3 separate regions of the Homo sapiens genome follow, and all the other regions are linked to region 3. Evidence: fine-mapped expression QTL. A gene starts in region 3. Each other region holds a variant in brackets. All regions are shown on one strand. Distances are from middle to middle.

Region 1 (2,758 bases), 58 kb after region 3:
CGGGGATAAACATAGGCTACCTGGGGTTGACACCCACCCCAGTCTTCCCTTCCTTTGCTCCCTACTAGCCTCCAGCATGCTCATGACCATGCAGCCTCCCTGGCTCCATCAGCTCAGGCTGTTACGACAAAAATACCACAGACTGGGTGGCTTCAACAACTGACATTTATTTCTCGCAGTTCTCAAGCCTGGGAAATCCAAGAGCAGGGTGCTGGCAGATTTGGCATCTGGGGAGGGCTCCCTTCCTGGTTTGCAGATGGCCGTCTTCTGGCTGTGTCCTCATGGGGTGGAAAGAGCTGGATAACTCCCTGGAGTCTTTTTTCTAAGGACGCTATTCCACTCATGAGGGTTCCACCCTCGTGGCCTAATCATCTCCCAAAGACCCCACCCCTAATACCATCACATTGAGGATTAGGGCTTCAACAGAGGAATTAGAGGGGGGCACACACATTCAGTCCTTGGCATCCTCTAACCTCACATGGAGCACAGACCCAGGAGCAGAAGGCATGGGCTGCAGGCTCCACATTAACCCCAGCTGCCTTCATGTCTCAGGGGTAAGCTGGAGTACATTCATGGTAGAATGGCCAACATAGTGAATGAATTCAGAAGCCAAAACCTGGCAAGTATCACAGGCTGGTTCATCCATTCGCATTTTTGCTCAGCAAATACTAATTGAACATTCATAGCATGCTGAATGCTGACGGGTGCTGGGGTTGATGGTGAACAGGACCCAGGTCCTGCTGCCCAGCTGTCCAGAGGGCAGTAGAGACCATGGCCAGTCCCTGTGATCAGTGCTCTGATATGGAGGTGGGGGGACCCTGGAGGGGAACCCCACCGAGCTTTGGAGTCAGGGAGGCTTCCGAGGAAGTGGCACTTACTCTGCGTTGGAAGAATGGGAAGAATGGGAAGGAAGGAGGTCTTTCTTCTCCTGTGATCACCCATTCAACACCAGGGCCCTTCAGTTCTCGCTCCCAAATGCCTCTCGTCTCTCTCCTTCCCTCTTAGGGCCCACTGCTACCCCTTGCTTCAGACCCTCATTGTTTCTTGCCCGGGTTACTGCAGCGGTCCTGCCTCCCGCCTCCCAGTCCTTTTGCTTCCTCACCGTCTATGTTATCTCTCAAATAAAATATACAGAACAACATCTGATCACATCCATCCTCTTGGTCCAACCCTTCGCGTAGGATAAGTTCTGCTTGTTTTCCTTCTAGTACTTTACTAGTTCAACTTTTAAATCTACCTACAATTTGTTTTTACTATTTTAAATAACAACTTTATTGAGCGATAATTCACATACCATAACACTCACCCTTTTATACATACAATCCAGTGTATACAGTTTTACAGATACAGTTCCATTTTCGTGTATTCAGGGTTCTATAGTTATCACCCCCATCTGAACGTTTTCCTCAGCCCCCAAAGAAACTTCACGCCCATTGACAGTCACCCCTCCTCCTGCCTCCACTCCAGCCCCAAGCAAACACAAATCTACTTTTCATCTCTTCGGATTTGCCTATTTGGGACATTTTGTATAAATGGTCTTCTGTGACTGGCTCCTTCCACTTAGCATCTTGTGTTCA[T/A]GATTCATCCATGGTGTGGCGTGTATTAGTACCTCATTCCTTTTTATTGCCAAATAACATTCCAACGTGTGGCTAGACCACAACTTGTCTGTCCACTGCTGAGCTGCTGGATGCTGACATTTGGACTCTTGGGCTCTTATGAGTAACGCTCCCGTGACCATCCCTGTTCGGGTGTTCTGGTGCACACATCTCCAGTTCTCCTGGGAGGATAACACTTTCGAACGATTCGTTTTCTTTTCCTCTCCTCAATTCCCTTTGTTTGCTCTTCCTCCTACTCAAGCAACTATGCAGTCTGGCAGCACTGTCGCAAATGGATACCTTGTTTCTCTCACTGCCTCCCATAGGGTGGGGCTTGGTTTCGATTTGTCACTTGATGTTTACTTTGATCACTTGACAACAGTGGTGTCTGCCAGCATCTCTCTTATAGAGTCATTCCTTTTTTTTTTTTTTTTTTTTTTTTGAGACGGAGTCTGGCTCTGTCGCCTAGACTAGAGTACAGTGGCACGATCTAGACTCACTGCAACCTCTGCCCCCCAGGTTCAAGTGATTCTTGTGGCTCAGCCTCCCCTGTAGCTAGGATTACAGGCGTGTGCCACCACACCTGGATAATTTTTATTAGAGATGGGCTTTTTACCATGTTGGCCTGGCTGGTCTCGAACTCCTGACCTCAAGTGATCCACCCACCTCGGCCTCCCAAAGTGCTGAAATTATAGGCGTAAGCCACCATGCCCGGCCAAAGTCATTCTTTTTTCATGTTCTCTGCCATTTTGTGGGTAGGTACTTTGAAATTCTGCAAATATCTCCATTCCTCACCAAATTCTCAGTGCATTCATTTATTTTTTATATCTGTATGGATTCCTGGTTTCCTGTTATATTCAATGGAGTATAATTTTTTGTGACTATAATTTATTTTTATGTTCAGATTGTCCTAGATTTGGCCAGTGGTCACCTTTCCAAAGCAGCTTCTTGGTTTTTGACGCGTTCTTATTATTCTTTGAGCACTCCCTTCCTCTCTAAAGTCCCTCTCCACATGGTCTCTCATCTTGACCCCAAATTCTGGGTTCAAAGAGGACAGAGTGTTCATCAAGCGTGTGTGGTGTGCATGTGTGTGTGTGTGTGTGTGCGCGCGCATGTGCGTGCGTGAGTGCATGTGTGTGTGAGTGCATGCATGCATGAGTGCG
Region 2 (2,758 bases), 62 kb after region 3:
GAGTGCCCCAAAGGAGAGAAATTCCCTTTCCCCAAGTGTTCAGCTCTGCCAGGCTGCCATCCCCTCCCCACCCCATCGGGCACTACATCTGTGCTTTGGGGGCTGCTCAGGAGCCTGCCTGACCTGGGGGAAGCAGGGACATCCACGCCGAATTACACAGAGCAGGACAGCAGCAGGCAGCAAAGGAAAGGGGAAGGAACCCGAGCAGGGAGAAGCAACAAGTGTCAATTAATCATAGGAGGTGAGGCCAGCTTTTGCCTGCAGTCAAGGGACATGAATATTGAGACTCTAGGTCAGCAAGTGACTTGTTTTAGCTCTTACCTATAGGACAAGAACTTAAGAATCTCTTCTGCTTCTCCACTCTGTGCTCTTTTTCCTGCATCTTTTTTGAGATAGAGTCTTGCTCTGTTGCTCCCCAACCCCCATCTTTTTTGAGATAGAGTCTTGCTCTGTTGCTCAGGCTGGGGTGCAGTGGTGCAATCTCAGCTCACTGCAGTCTCGACCTCCTGGGCTCGAGCTATCTTCCCACCTCAGCCTCCTGAGTAGCTAAGACTACAGGTGCATGCCACCATTCCCAGCTAATCTAAAACAATTTTTTTTTTTTGTAGAGACAGGGATCTCACTATGTTGCCCAGGCTGTTCTTGAACTCCTGGGCTCAAGCGATCCTCCTGCCTTGGCCTCTCAAAGCATCAGAATTACAGCCACTGTCCCTGGCCCCTGCACTTTTTACTAAAATCTCTTGATGTTGTGAAGTAAGTCCCTGTCCTGATGGGACTTGGCCATGGCATTCCCTAGGCATTAATTTTGTTGCTAGAACTTGGACACATGGTCAGAGTGGAATCTTGAGACTTTTTTCTTTGTAAGATCTTATATTATTATTATTACTTGCATATTCATTGTAGAAAATTTTAGAAAATACTAAAACTCATAATCCAGTCTCTGAAAGGTAGCCACGGCCAACAGGTTGGCATATTTCTTTCTTTATACCTGGGTACGCTGGTGCTCTATGTACAATTGTGTACCTGCTTTCTAAACTAGAAAATCTCAAGCTCCTCAAGTTGGTAGCGTGATGATTGGCCTGGGACTCCTGAAGTTCCAGCCTCAGGACAGGACAGGACCTGTCCCTGGGACCATGTCCGCTAGCAAGGGGCACAGATGACTTCCCATTTCTGCCTGGC[C/T]ACATGGCTCCCGATGCTTGGGCTCAGTCTGCAGATGTGATGGAGGAGGAAGGACACGTGCCTCCTTGCTCTGTCTGCTCTCCTTTTCTCTTTGCGCCACCCGGTGGCAGATGAGCAGGACATCCACACTGTCTTTGATGGTTAGGTGCACGACCCCTGACTCCTCACCCCCCCACCTCACCCTAGAAGGATTTGTGAAGATGGTTTCTGAGTGTTCGATGGCCTTCTAGGCTGACAGCGGTGGGTCCCCGGCGATGGTTCTGGCACACCCCCAGCCCATTTACGAAATGCACGCTGTTTACTCCGCGTCTCTTGAGTGGGTCCCAGGGGACCATTTTCCTCCCTTAGGTAAGTCCAAGCTTAGAGAAGTTCAGCACACACAGATTATGCACTCAGCCGACTGAAATGATTTTCTGTTGCGATTAGAGTCAATGGTGAAAATCACACACATCACTTCGTGAAGTAAATTATTGTTCGCTTGATAGATCCTAATAGCTCTCCAGAGTTGTTAAGGCCTAAACAGTCCATGGAGAGTTTGGGGAGGTAGGAGGGTGGGAGGCAGGGGGAGACAGAGTGGGTGAGGGGGGAGGGGAGAAGGGGAGTCTCATCATTCCAGAAAGCAAGGCACGATAAGACTGGCATGCGATGCGCTCTTACTGGAACTCCAATCCTTAACTACTTCTGTACTTCATGGGCTCATAAATATCGCCGAGTCCTTTTCTGTATTTCCGTGCACAACTTTCTGTTTGGCTGATGCCCAGCTCTCTCTTTTTCTGTCAACCCGTTGTCATGCGTGTAAAACACAGAGGAAAGTGCCGGCTGTTAATGTCATCATCGTGCACAGCTGGCTCCTGCTCTGCTTCGAAGCTTAACTCAAGATCCACCTCTGGGTGATACACGACCCTCTACACCCCCTTTCCTCTGAACGCTGATGATGGTGACAGTGATGATTATGACGAAAGCAATGGTGATGGTGACGATGATGATGACAAACAATACCCATTGGCCACTGTCCGTGGGTCCAGCACCGCCTTCTTCAAGACCCTATTCTAAATCCTTTATTCATATCAATCAGTTTAATAGATGGTGTGTCAAGGGAAGCCAGCTGATGTTATCCCTGTTACACGAATCAGGAAACTGAGGCAGGAGAGGCTGAGTGACCCTCCCCGGTCAATACGGCTTGTTAGATGCAGAGTGAGGATCTGAACTCAGGCCCCCAGGCCCTCGTGGGTGAGGCTGCCTCTCCAGGGATCATAGCACTTGGTTTGGCACTTGTACCCCTGCAGGAATTATGAGCTAACTGTCTACACTGCTAAGCTGCCTCCCAGTCTCAAAGCTAAAGAAACCCTCAATCCCCAAAGTGTAGGTAGTAAGCGCTTAACTAATGTGGAGCAGCTGGCAAAGGCCCTGGGGTGGGGGGCAGATAGGGAAGTGCTTTCATTTCACAGTAACAGGCCCTCCTTGGGCTCCAAATACATAAAGGGAACTTTGCGGCCACACCCCAGGTCCTGCTGAACACTGGAAGTCTGGAGATATCTGAAAGGGAGAAACGGGGTGGATGCATGCGTCTAAGGGAGGA
Region 3 (2,758 bases):
CAGCTACTTGGAAAGCTGAGGCAGGAGAATCACTTGAGCCCAGGAGCTTCAGGCTACACAGTGAGCTACCACTACACTGAGGCCTGGTGACAAAGCAAGACCCAGTCTCAATCAAACAATCAATAAAAGGGAATTTAAAAAACGTTTGCGTTTGTGGGTAAAAAACCAAATTAGACATGATTTCTAGGTATGAAGCAACGTGGTGGGAGACTGAAAGTCTAGGTAAACTGGAAAAAAACATTATTTGTGCCTGATATAGTTATGTGGTCTCTGGCATCTGGTGTAGCTCTGCCCTTGGAAAGCTCAACTTGTCAACATCACCTTAAAACGAAAACACAGATTTGGCTACACTTAATAGTGAAGTGCCTTGTTGGAGGAAAACAACAAGGGGGCCAAGTAAGGAGACAGAAATACCTAATCTCCAAGCTGGTTCTTAATGGAACCGAGCAAATGGGTGATGAATAACCCGGGAACGCAGTAAGACAGGCCAGAGAGGTAATGCGCCCAAGAGAAGAGAGACGAGGGGCGGCCAGGGGGAGAGGAAGCTCGAGAGGAATCGCTAGGAAGGAAACGGAGAAGACCACGCCAGGACAGCCCTGCCAGCCCCCTACCTCCGGCGGGGCCGCAGGGGAGAGTCTCACTCGAGTCGGACGCCGCAGCCCGGTGGGGCCCGGGCCCCGCTTCAAAAACAGCCGGGGCTGCGTCGCCGCTGTCATCCCACCCCACCCTCCACCCGTCGCTCCCCCACCGCGCGCCCCGCCCGGCCCGTGCGCCCGACCCAGGCTCCCTCCCTAGAGTCCCGACCTCTAGCCCTGTACCCCACTTCCCAGGGTCCCGTCCTCCAGCCCCTTAAGCCCCTCCCCAGGGTCTGGTCCCCCGGCCCCGCACCCCTCCCCAGGGGCCCGTCCCCCGGCGCTGAACCCGCACCTCCCTCCCCAGGGTCCAGTCCCCAGCCCTGCACTCGCACTCCCCTCCCAGGCCCGAGCCCGCTCCCGCCCTCCCGGCCCTGGGCTCTCAGCACCAGGCTCCCGCCCTCAGCCTCTTCTCCTCCCGCGCCCGCCGCCGCTCCTCACCTCCTCGGCGGCCGCCGCTGCACTCGCTGGGTCTTGGTTGCGGCGAAACCCGGGGCGCAGCGGCGCAGGGGTCTGGAGCCCGCAGGGGTCGCCGGGCTGAGCGCGCTCGGCCGCTTCCGGTGCTGCGCTGCGGAACTCAGAGGACTTAGTGCTCGGCAAGCCCAGAGACTCAAACACCATATCCCTGGGGGGGCTCCTCACGCTGTGTTCGGCAGGGAGGCGAGAGCGCCGGTTCAGCCAGAGACAGCTGGGGGAACCGCGCCGAACACGCTCCGGGCGGCCATTTTGTAACTCGAATCTACCCCCAAAACCAATTCGAAAAAAAGGGAGGAAAGAAACGCCCGCGTTCAGCTACTGCGCAAGCGCGCCGGCGCTTCCGGCAGTAGCACCTCCTTCCGCCGGCCGGGCCCCTTACGCGGCGCATGCGCCCAGCTCCCTGGAAACCGGCGCGGGGCTGAGAATGCCGGTCTCGCGCAAGCGCGCACGCGCCGACCTTGATCTCGTAGCCGGCGCCAGCAGCCGCGCTTTGGGGCGTCGGCTCACGTGGGGCCGGCAACGCGTCTTCCAGGATGTTCGCGCGCTAGTCGCCGCTGAGGGGCCGGCGATGCGCGAGGAGTTCCGGCGAGGAAGGTCGGTCAGTGGACATGGCCGAGGCCCGCGGTGTCCGCGTGTGGGAGCTGCAGGGCTGAGGAGAGGCCGCCCGCAACCCTCGGGAATCGTGTGAGGTGCCACTGGGGTCGCTTCACATCAGGAGGCCCCGTCTCGGGGGACGCGCGCAGGTGACCCTGCTGGTCGTACCTGGCCGGGGTGGCCCGGAGGGGCTGGGTCTCGGCGCCAGGAGGGGCCGTGTGGGCCGCCTGTTAAAGGACCCCTCGTTCGCTGACATTTGATTTTGCATTGGGTGCCTTCTCTTCTGTTTTTTTCAGCCAGTGAGATCCGTCCTGGGCACTCAGCTGTAGAGCAGGGGAACGAGTCCTGCGCTTTTTGCGCTGAGGTCTCCTGGCCCGTAGGCCAGGCAGCCTCTGAGCTCCTTTCTCACCAGCAGCTTGCGATCCCTCATCCCTGGCCCTGTCACTCCCAGCTGTTTCCAGTGCCGCCCTTTTTTTTTTTTTTTTTTTGAGATGGAGAGTTTAACTTGTTCGCCCAGGCTGGAGTGAAGTGGCACGATCTTGGCCTACTGCAACCTCTGCCTCCCGGATTCAAGCGATTCTCCTGCCTCAGCCTCCCGAGTAGTTGGGATTACAGTCGTGCGCCACCACGCCCGGCTAATGTTTATATTTTTAGTAGAGACGGGTTTTCACCATATTGGTCAGGCTGGTCTCGAACTCGTGACCTCAGGTGATTCCCTCCCCCCGCCCCACCACCTCAGCCTCCCAAAGTGCTGGGATTACAGGCCTGAGCCACCGTTCCCGGCCTCGAGCGCCTTCTTATAAACTGGATGGTGGTTTTTGTTTTCACCTTCAAAGTCGAATCTCCCTAGTCCGTTTATTACCAGAAAGAGGTCTCCACTCAGACCCAGCGAGAGGCTTCTTGGATGTCGCGTAGGAAAGAATTCGGGGCGAGTCCACGGACTAAAGTGAAAGCAAGTGTATTAGAGAAGTGAGAAAGCAAAAGAATGGCAGAGCAGGGCATTCCTGAAAGCGGGAGGAGGAAGGCGCCCGCCTTAGGTACAGTGCTTGTTCAAA

Alleles and levels. Positions count from the first base shown, and alleles are read on the strand shown. Sizes are in standard deviations (SD) of each study's normalised expression. Not every link is listed here.
As copies of T replace A in region 1, the expression in subcutaneous fat of the gene that starts at base 1,445 in region 3 goes up (small effect, 0.33 SD a copy in GTEx).

The links. PIP is the estimated chance that this variant, and not a neighbour inherited with it, causes the effect.
Region 1: its variant is fine-mapped to the expression of NUP50 in subcutaneous fat (GTEx, PIP above 0.99). The same link has a PIP of 0.9 or more in unexposed skin.
Region 2: its variant is fine-mapped to the expression of NUP50 in whole blood (INTERVAL, PIP above 0.99).

What each region holds. Positions count from the first base shown.
Region 1 is chr22:45,104,515-45,107,272 of GRCh38, reverse strand. No RefSeq gene overlaps it. Among named protein-coding and RNA genes, the nearest start is that of NUP50-DT, 58 kb to the left of the region's middle. The variant T/A (reference allele first, on the strand shown) is at 1,578.
Region 2 is chr22:45,100,544-45,103,301 of GRCh38, reverse strand. No RefSeq gene overlaps it. Among named protein-coding and RNA genes, the nearest start is that of NUP50-DT, 62 kb to the left of the region's middle. The variant C/T (reference allele first, on the strand shown) is at 1,180.
Region 3 is chr22:45,162,612-45,165,369 of GRCh38, reverse strand. NUP50 (nucleoporin 50) reads right to left here and starts at 1,445. Exons shown (of 8, transcript NM_007172.4): 1 at 1,074-1,445. It overlaps NUP50-DT (NUP50 divergent transcript), which reads left to right and starts at 1,589. Exons shown (of 3, transcript NR_038956.1): 1 at 1,589-1,793. RefSeq lists silencers at 674-853, 884-1,113, 1,884-1,933 and an enhancer at 994-1,516.